Regions from separate parts of the Homo sapiens genome. Here region 1 is linked to region 2. The links come from fine-mapping of genetic effects on gene expression. A gene starts in region 2. The other region holds a variant in brackets. All regions are shown on one strand. Distances are from middle to middle.

What was found. PIP is the estimated chance that this variant, and not a neighbour inherited with it, causes the effect. A credible set is the group of variants that fine-mapping cannot tell apart.
Region 1: its variant is the best candidate, but not a certain one, in a credible set for the expression of ALAD in whole blood (TOPMed, PIP 0.59).

The regions. Positions count from the first base shown.
Region 1 is chr9:113,454,239-113,459,616 of GRCh38, reverse strand. It overlaps a transcript of RGS3 not described here. Among named protein-coding and RNA genes, the nearest start is that of RGS3, 6.8 kb to the left of the region's middle. The variant G/A (reference allele first, on the strand shown) is at 2,515.
Region 2 is chr9:113,398,422-113,403,799 of GRCh38, reverse strand. ALAD (aminolevulinate dehydratase) reads left to right here and starts at 2,516. Exons shown (of 12, transcript NM_000031.6): 1 at 2,516-2,588. RefSeq lists silencers at 2,205-2,564, 2,715-2,764 and an enhancer at 2,780-3,360.

The sequences.
Region 1 (5,378 bases), 56 kb before region 2:
CACCACACCTAGCTAATTTTTGTATTTTTAGTAGAGACAGGTTTTCACCATGTTGGCCAGGATGGTTTCGAACTCCTGACCTCAAGTGAACCGTACACCTTGGCCTCCCACAGCGCTGGGATTATAGGCGTGAACCACCGTGCTGGCTAATATTTTAAATTATAAGAGAAAACCACTGCAACCTTATTGTATAAATTTGAAAATCTGAAAGGAACTGGATGATTTTCTAGAAAGTATTAATTAGTAAAATTGATAAAAAGTTTGAAATTTTTAATAGATCACTAACTATAGATAAAATAGAAAAGGAAACCAAAACTCTATTCGACAAAATTATAGAAAATCCAGATAGTTTTAAGAGGCTAATTCTATAAGATCTTCAAGAAACAGATGATGCTAATGTAGTTTTAACTATTTCAGAACATAGGAAAAAACAAAGATGTGTCAGCGCTAGGTAGAAAGCTAGACAAAGACAAAAACCAAGTAAGGTTAGAAACAGAAAACTATAGACCAAAGGTAAAAGATAAAAGTAAGAATAGAAGTTAATTAAATAGAAAATATACAATAGAGGCTGGATGCAGTGGCTCATGCCTGTCATCCCAACACTTTGGGAGACCAAGATGGATGGATCACCTGAGGTCAGGAGTTCAAGACCAGCCTGATCAATATGGTGAAACCCATGTTTGCTAAAAATACAAAAGATAGTCAGGTGTGGTGGCATGCGCCTGTAGTCCTAGCTACTCGGGAGACTGAGGCATGAGAATCACTTGAACCCGGGAGGCAGAGGTTGCAGTGGGCCAAGATAATGCCACTGTGCTCCAGCCTGGACAACAGAGCAAGACTCTGTCTCAAAAAAAGAAAAAAGAAAGAAAATATACAATAGAGCAGATCTATTAAAATGTGGCGAAACTAGGCCAACATTCTCCCAGTTTTGTCACTTTTTTTTAAAGAAAAGCCAGCAATCTTAAATAATCCATGTAATATTTCCCAATTTGTTAATATTAATAACTCATTCAAAATGTTTTAAAATGTTATGAAGGCTAAATAGAATACATCTATACCCCACAGCTAGTTTGAAATTTCTACATAGCCCAATCTGACTTATGAATATAAATGTAAAAATACTAATAAAATACAAGCAAATCAAATCCAACAGTATATTCATGATCAAGTTGGTATTTATCCTAGAGATGCAAAAATGGTTCAAATTTAGTGAACATATTAGTGCAGGGGTTGGCAAACTATGGCCTACCAACCAAATCTGGCTGGCTGCCTGTTTTTGTACAACAGGTGAGCTAAGGATGCATTTTACATTTTCAAATGGTTGGGTGAAAATTTTTAAAGTTAAAGACTTTTCTATGGCCAGAAAAATGTAAAATGTTTTTAACTAAAAAAATGAATTTGGCCAGGCACAGTGGCTCACGCCTGTAATCCCAGGACTTTGGGAGGCCAAGGCAGGCGGATCGCTTGAGGTCAGGAGTTTGAGACCAGCCTGAGCAACATGGTGAAACCCCGTCTCTACTGACTCGATCATGCATACACTGTGGGATTTGATTTGCTAATATTTTATTAGTATTTTTACATCTATAGGCATCAGTCAAATTGGTCTATGAAGAGATTTTTACCTTTGACCTTTTGTCTATAGTTTCCTGTTTCTAACCTTATTTGGTTTTTGTCTCTGTCTAGCTTCCTACCTAGCACTGACAAATCTTCATTTTTTTCCTGGGTTCTGAAATAGCCAAAATTGCATTGGCATCATCTGTTTCTTGAAGGTCTTATAGAAATTGCCTCAAAAGCTACCTGGGTTTTCTAGTAACCAAGGAAATGAAAAAGAAAAAAAAATCTGGCCCACCATTTGCTTTCAGAAAGTTCAAGCATTTGTATTTATATATGAAGCAACTAAGATGCAGAGTTGTTAACTGAATCAGGTTGCTAAACTAGTAAATAAACAGTGGGGAAATAAAAATCCAGCTCCCAGCAAGAGAACCATTATAGAATACCATCTCTCCCAGCAGTCCTCTTGCTCAAAGTGGCAAGGCTACGGTCTAGCAGGACTGAGACTTCTGTGGCTACTGACACATTAAAGTTCAATTCAACAAGTGTTTGCTAAGCACCTATGGAGCTGAGCCTTATAACTGGGCACTGGGGATACATATAGCAGTGAAAAAGATGGAGTTTATAGTCAAGTGGGAGATTGGGTAAGCATTACAATAGAGGAAACACAGCAACCTCTGGAAGCATAGAATAACATTTCACTTAATCTGGGGAGCTAGGCAAACCAAGATGATAAAGGGGGTCAAGGAAGACTGCCCAAAGAAAATCACCTGCAGTATGATTTAGCCAAGTATAGGAGAGGAAGGAAGGGTTACAGGCAGAAAGAACAAAACATGTAAAGGCCAGAAAGTGAGAGGGGGCGTTGTACGTTTGAGGAACTGAACAATGGGAAATGTGGCAGGGAACTTAGAACGTGAGGGAATCAGTAATATGCAAGAAAGTAAACAGGGGCCAAATCATACA[G/A]GGCCTCGGCCAGGCGCGGTGACTCACGCCTGTAATCCCAGCACTTTGGGAGGCTGAGGTAGGTGGATCACCTGAGTTCAGGAGTTTGAGACCAGCCTGGCCAACATGGTGAAACCCATCTCTACTAAAATACAAAATTAGCCAGTGTGGTGGCGCATGCCTGTAATCCCAGCTACTCGGGAGGCTGAGGCAGGAGAATGGCTTGAACCCGGAGGCAGAGGTTGCAGTGAGCTGAGATCATCGCATTGTACTCCAGTCTGGAAGACAAAAGCGAAACTCTGTCTCAAAAAAAAAATAAATAAATCATATAGGGCTGCATATTTTATTATAAGGAGATTGGGCTTTATTTTAAGAGCATAGAGCAGTTGTCAAATATTTTAAGCAAGATCCCAACAGCCTTTAATTCACATTTTAGAAAGATTGCTCTGGCTAGAATACGAAAAAAAAAAAAACAAATTGGTTAGGGGTGGAGGCGTTTGCATGACATGAGGGTCGGAAGCAAAAATTGCTCTTAGAAGTCTTTTCTGGTCATCCAGGTAAAAGATGACAATGACCAAACTAGGGAAGTGGCAATAGGGATGGAAAGAGATAGAATCAACAGGCCATGGTGATTGAGTAGAAGATGGAATGCAAGGAATTCTGGCTTGAGAAATTGTTTAGAAGTGCCCTTTGCAGAAATGAAGAACATGAGAGGCAGGGCTGAACTGAGGGGAGAATGGATGAGTTCAACTGTGAGCCTGCTAAGGTTGGGTGACCCATGTGCCATCCAAGTGAAGATGTCAAGTGAACAGTTGAACATAATGGTCTGAAGCTCAGCAAAAAATACTTAGGCTAGAAATATAGATTTAGGAATTCCCTGTGAGGCCATGAGCATGCATAAGACAGCCCACAGGGAATGTTTAATGTGAGAAAGCTCAGGACAGAACCAAGAGTAGTACCAACTGAAAAAACAGGCAGAGGAAGAAAGGCCTGAAAGGGGAAGGAAAAGTCAGGGGATGTATTAAGAAGGAAATAATAGTCAACAGTGTCAAATATTGTTAAGAGGTCCAGTAGGTTTAATAACTGAGAAGTGTCCATTAGATTTAGCAACAAGACAGTCCCTGTTGACCTTTCATCCCAGAATAAAATGCTGGGGGGCAACAACTTCACATGAATGAAAAGGTACCAAATTTACTCTAAAAGGAAAAACACCCTGGACTCAAAGCCAGACGATATTCTTGGGTCAGGTTTTTTTCATGTCCTAAATTTAACCAGCTGGAATGCTTTGTTAAGTGGTATTTTATTCACCCTTGAAATGAAGGATTTGCCTTTTAAAAGTGTCTCTGTAATTCATCTTCAAGGTAGAACAAGGTGGTATCTTTGGGTTAATTGTTCTCTACAGAAACAGATGCTGGTTGCTGTAAATACCACTGAGGAACTTTAATGTGCCCCAGATGTAGAAGCCTCTAGTGACCTAAATACACAAACAGGGACTAAAGAGAACCAAGTAAAAGATTCAAGATTTCAAGTGTAAGCGGAGAGATACTGCTTCAAAGTGGAAGAGACCAAACCTTCACCACCAAAGGAATGTGAACTAGTAAGTTGAGTCCAAAGATAAAAGCTAAAGACTTGATAAGAGCCAGAAAAGCAGAGTGCCTGGTCTCTGCTAGAATGACTCAGCACCCTCGCAGTTAGGCTGGAAGCCCTTTCAGCCTCTTCAAGAGCTGCTTTTCCTGGCCTGATAATGAGCAACTTGGCCTGGCATAATCCTACATTCCAGAGGCCCTCAGTTTTTCAAAATTAAAAAACAATATAGACTTCTGTTTCCAGCCAAGATGGAATAACAGGAACTGGATTTTCCCTTCACCTGAAACAACTAAAAGACTGGACAAAATATATGAAACAATGGTTTTTAAGATATTGTACATCAGGCAACGAAGGACAGTGATCCCTGAGAAACAGAAAAGAGACAAGCTGTGCCCTGTGATCAGCCCAGCTTATTCCCGGGAGAGACTTTCCAAAAGGGAGAGGGAACTCAGGCCAACTCCAAATCCCTGAACTGAGAAGTTCGGGAGGCCAAGGCAGCTAGAGTTCCAAGGCAGAGTACCAGAGAGGAGACAGTCACACAAAGAGAGGGCCCCAGAGGTCTCCAGAGAGTCCCCACTCACAACTTCAGCTAAGTGCTAATGAGCTCATGGGTTTGAGGAAAGTATCCCAAGGCTGGGGAAAGAACCACCAAAGAATTACAGGGAACAATCTTTAAAGCTCACACAGGGCCAGGAATAGTTCTTAAGCTCATCAACCAGAGTGGAAAGACCTTCTAATTCCTTAGGAGGTATTAGATAGAATACTCAGAAGGGTCTTCCCTCAGTTGTGGGGAATAATCAACCCTAGATTAAATGCTGTACTTGTCCATCTAAAAAAAAAAAAAAAAAAAAAAGTTTAAAAGCAAGACCCAAAAGGATCAAACTGTTTTTGATTTTGGTTTTTGTTTTGTTTTGTTTTGTTTTGTTTTTTTGATACTGTCTCGCTCTGTCGCCCAGGATGGAGTGCAGTAGCAAGATCTCAGCTCACTGCAACCTCCACCTCCCAGGTTCAAGTGATTCTTATGCCTCAGCCTGCTAAGTAGCTGGGACTACAGGTGTGCACCACCCCACCTGGCTAAGTTTTGTATTTTTAGTAGAGACAGGGTTTCACCATGTTGGCCAGGCTGGTCTCAAACTCCTGACCTCAAGTGATCCACCCACCTCAGCCTCCCAAAGTGCTGGGATTACAGGCATGCACCGCACCCAGCTAGGATCAAACTGTTTCTAAGTAACTTAACTGCATCCCAGAACAAGCTAAAGAATACTTGTAAGAATATAAAAATATCTAGAACCCAAAAA
Region 2 (5,378 bases):
AGCAGTCTGCTTTCTTTCTTGTTCCTTTTTTATGCTTTTCACAGCATTTAGCACAATGCCATATACCTACCTAGAAGACACTCAGAATAGTTTAGTTTTAACTTTTTATTGAAACGAAATATACATACTAAAAGACACAAATAAGTGTGGAGCTTAATGAATTTTCACGAATTAAACACAGCCATGTAACTCACACCCAGACCAATAAACATTAACTGCATCCAAAGAAACCTCTTTAGTCTCCCCCTGCCGCCTTTTTTTTTTTTTTTTTTTTTTTTTTTTCTGGAGACAGGGTCTTGCTCTGTCATCCAGGCTGGAGTGCAGTGGTACGATCACAGCTTACCGCAGCCTTGACCTCCCAGGCTCAAGCAATCCTCCCATGTCAGCCTCCCAAGTAGCTGGGACTACAGGTGTCCACCACCATGCCCAGCTACTTTTTGTAATTTTTGTAGAGACTGTTTCGCCATGTTGCCAAGGTTGGTCTTGAACTCCTGGGCTCAAGCGATCCACCAGCCTTGGCCTCCCAAAGTGCTAGGATTACAGGTGTGAGCCACCACACCCAGCCTAATCTCCCTTTCAATCCTCCCCATCTCCCCAGTGGAAATCACTATTCTGAGTCCTAACAACACAGCTTAATTTTGCTTGATTGTGTAGTTAATATAAATGAAATCATATTATATACTATTTTGTGTCTCACTTCTTTTACTCAACAATATGTTTAAGATTTATTCATATTATTGCATTCACAATACTGAAAGATTAAGGTAAAATGTTTCAAAAGGTGGAGGCTGGGGGGAGAGTGGGAACAGGTCTTTCAGTCAAGAAGAAGAAAAGACATGGGGGAAATAAGCTACACCAAACAGCAACATTTTAAAATTTCCCGTTCTATTTGGGTTCTTAGATGGTTCTAATTATTTTTAGTTACCAATAACCTCAGGGAAGGAATGAGTGTCAGGAAAGAAATGTCGGGCAGGGAATCTAGGAAAAAACAAATAATAATTGCCCCTATGGAGTGTGGTTATTAGCAGGCATTGCAGAGAGAGCCCAGTGTAACATGGGGCAAATTATTTAATCTAGCTGGCAATTGTTTTCCCAATCCGTAAAGTGAGAATAGTAACATCGTTGCTGTCAAGATTAGATAAATGAATGTAAAATGCATGGTACTGTCCCTGACTCTTTAATGCACAGCAAACATTATTTGCTTTCTATCCCCTTCCTTGTTGAATACAGATCAGAACTCCAGTAGCTGGAAACTAAGCAGTGTCATATTTCCCTAGCCTTACGCCGCTAGGCCCCTTAAATTTAAAATATAAAGTATACAACAGGTTTGGGGTACAGATTTTGAGAAATTTAAAAAAAAATTTTTTTTTGAGACAGAGTCTCCCTCTGTCACCCAGGCTGGAATGCAGTGGCATGATCTCAGCCCATTACAACCTCCGCCTCCCGGGTTCAAGCGATTCTCCTGCCTCAGCCTCCCGAGTAGCTGGGATTACAGGAGCCCGCCACCACGCCCGGCTAATTTTTTGTATTTTTAGTAGAGACAGGGTTTCACCATGTTGGTCAGGCTGGTCTTGAACTCCTGACCTCAAGAGATCCGCCCGCCTTGGCCTCCCAAAGTGCTGGGATTACAGGCGTGAGCCACCGAACCGGGCTGAGAAATAAAATCTGAGAATAAGTGTAATGTAACCCACTAGTGTCCTCTACATTTGAAAGTCAACTTTTCAATAATCCCTGAAGAACCACCTGAAAGGCATTGCTTCGCTAGGGCGATGATGCCCGATCGCCATTTTACTCATCCAATCCTACTGGTTTACCCAGGCCCCATAAGCCTCACCAGATCCCTCTTGCCTCTGCACATCTCCAATCTCCATAAAGACCTTTGATCGGATCTATCATTGTACCTATCATAGGTCTGATGCCCCTATCAAGACTTGGAGTTTTCCTAAACGCCCATGTCTTTCACATCACATCTCTCAACTCATAGCATTGCCGTACCCTGAGAAATAAATGAAGCTGGTACAAATTTTCTCTGAAAACTTGGAAGCCTGGCGCTGAACTCAACAACTTTAGCTTAGTCCGCAAAAATGGACTTAGCTAATACTGTGTTAGGCATAATGGTGCTGTTTTAACGGCTTTGACATCCAATTATTCTTTCACCAAGCCATTAACCAGAGCCAAGTTTGCCCTAGGCTGGGCAAAGGAATGCTGTGAAGTGAAACCTGGGCTGTAACCGCCTCCGAGGCCGGCTCACACCCAGGGACCCTCCCAAGCGGTTCCTGCGCCCCCTCGTGGCCTCCCTCCTGCAGTTCGCTGCACAAGCGCAGGGCCCGGAGCGGGGACGGGCGGGCCCTCCAGGCCCTCGACACACCCAATTGGCCAGGCCTCGTTGCGTGTGGGCGGGGCCGCGGCTGGAGCGGAGGAGCCCCCCAGAAGACCGCCTTCAGGGGGCGTGGCCTGGACTGTGGAGGGGGCGGACCGTGGGGAAGCTGCTTCCGGGTGAGCCCCCCCCGCTCTTACGCGGTCTGTGGGAGACCGGAGCGGGAGACAGCGGTGACAGGAGCAGCGGCCGGGAGCCCTTAGGGAGGCAGGTGAGCGGGGGCTGGATGCGGGGAGATAGCGGGCCTGGAGGGCGGCTCCAGGGCGAGGCGGGGACTGTGGCACCAAGAGTCCTGCGTCCCCAGATTGTGCTGTGCGCCTGAAGCCCTGGCGGTGCAGCCGTGCACGGAGTCCCGTGGAGCGTTTGTTTGGGCTGGATTATCCCGCTGCAGCCGAGGTTGGGGGCCCGGGTTCGGGGCTCCGCACCTCTTCTCTGGGGTTCACCCTCTCGGATACCGCCTGGGCAGACTCCATCGATGCAGAACCCGAGGTGCGGGTGGTGGTTGGTGGGGGGGTAGGGAGGTGAAAACAATAACAGCCGTTTTGTACTAAGCGTTGCGTGCATTGACCATTCATTTATTTTATTTATTTATTTATTTTTGAGACGGAGTTTCGCTCTTGTTGCCCAGGCTGGAGTGCAATGGCGCGATCTCAGCTCACTGCAACCTCCGCCTCCCGGGTTCAAGCGATTCTCCTGCCTCAGCCTGCCAACTAGCTGGGATTACAGGCGTGTGCCACCACGCCTGCTAATTTTTGTATTTTTAGTAGAGATGGGGTTTCTCCCTGTTGGTCAGGCTAGTCTCGAACTCCCGAGCTCAGGTGATTCGCCCACCTCGGCCTCCCAAAGTGCTGGGATTACAGGCGTGAGCCACCACGCCCGGCCTGACCCATTCATTTCTTACAACAACCCATTGAGGTCGGTTCTAGTCCCCATTTACTAAACGAAGAAACTGAGGTCACACAACTAGAAAGCTACAGAACTAGGATTTGTACCCACATCTATCAGACTCCAGAGCCCACATACTTAACCATCCTGCTACCAACAGCAGCCAGGCCCAGAGTCTGGCTCACCCAAAGCTCTCCACAAGCCCAACCTGCTGGGAAACAGATTTGATATCTATCCTTAAAGTATGGAGGTGTCATGGTGGGCACTGAGGACTGGGCTGCTGGAGACCTTCCCCCAGATCTGCCGCTGACCCACTGCGTGATCCTGGGCCTGTGTCTACCCCTCTCTGAGCCCAGTTTCACCCTTGTTTCAGTGATACAATCAGCAAACTTTAAGAAGACTCTTAGCCAAGATATTCTAGGATTCTGGGAATGGCAGCTTCTCCTACGTCTAAATGGCTAACCCCAGAGGCGATCAGGCTCTTCAAAGCCCCAGGGCAAGGCTGGGGTCTCATTCTTCTCTTTAATCCCTGTGTCTAGCACTTCAGCAGGCCCATAGTAGATATTCAAGAAATGTGGGTTGGCTGAATAAACACTTCATCTCTTTTCAGAACTGCATGACAGCTGCTCTCCTGGGCCTTTGTGGGGCTTTGGATTTCTCAGTTCTGGCCACCTTCTATCTAGCTGGCTCTCCTGACTGCCTCCTCCCTGGCCAGTGGCAGAGCCTGCCAGGGCTGGCAGCAGGTCCTAAGCCTCTGTGCGAAGACCCACAGCCTCTGGAATCCTCAGCATAGTACAACTTGCAGGGGTGGGGGGTGGCACATGAAGCTCATAGCCCCTCCTGGTAGCAGTGCTCAGGGCCCAACTTCAGTTACTCCCAGTTTGGGGATGTTGCCTTCCATGGGAGGAGATACTTTCATATTAAATCTGAAACACTTCTTATCCTTCACTGTCCCCTCTTCCATGAAACCACCCTTGACTCAGAGACACAGTCCCTCTGACAGCACCTGGTCCACCCCTCTACTCTGGCAGCCCGGTGGTGATTATTTTGTTTTTCCTCCACCACATAACCTGCTGGAAGGCAGGGACTCCACTTCAGAAATCTTGGAAAACCCTGTGGCCCACAAGGGTTTGAGCTCATATTCCCATCTGGTGAGGTGCAGAAGGCACAGAGCTGTGCCAGGACATCTCGTTCCAACCCAGCCCCACTCCTAATAGTAATAAAAGTAGCTACATGTTTACTGTGCAGCTACTTGGTGCCAGACACCTACCTTATCCCTATCAATAATCTCCACAGCCTTGCAAGTTAGAGATATCATGCCTATTTTGTAGATTATGAAATGAACACTGAAAGGTCAATTACTTTGCCCAAAATTACACAGCAGAGCATAGACCAAACCTGGGACTGTCTGACCCTGAAACATGGATCTTTCTGCACCGCCCTATACTCTGCGTCCCAGCAAAGCTAACCTGTCTGATGTGGTTGGGCAGAGGTGCTGGACCTCCTGGCGGCTCGCTCCTGTCTTCAGTGTGGTAATGTCACAGGCATTTAAATTGTGGTTTGCAAGCTCGCTTGATTTGGGAGAAGTGCCCTCCCAGTCTGTGAAATTCTCCCAAACTCTAAGGGCCTTTTTGCAAAGCAAAACCCACCCTGCATTTGGCTCTGCCAATATGTGATTCAGGGGGTGTTTTCCCACTCACAGAATGGAGTGGGAAACTCCACTTATTAAGTACCTCTTACAATGGAATGACTCTATGGTGTAGGTATCAGGGCACTGAAATAGAAGCCAGGAGCTGCAGGGTCAGTTTATAGCTCTGTATGTCACTCACTGTGATCTCCAAAAGTCCCGTTGCCTCTTTATACCCCATTTTCCACATTAAAGTGTAAGGGATTAAACAGGATTGGCAATTTTCAAGCTTTTAATATTTTCAGCACTGACAGCCGTTTCTCAAATCAAATCTGTCTCTGAATCTTAAAATTCAAAAACAGATCAAAGTGGACTGCTGTAGTGAGACTGTTCCCTTTACTCTAACCCTGCCCCGGTCTCAGGCTCCTAGGCAGTCCTGCCCCAGGGTTTCTGCTAAGCAGGAGCCAGTTGTTCCCTCAGCCTCCTAAA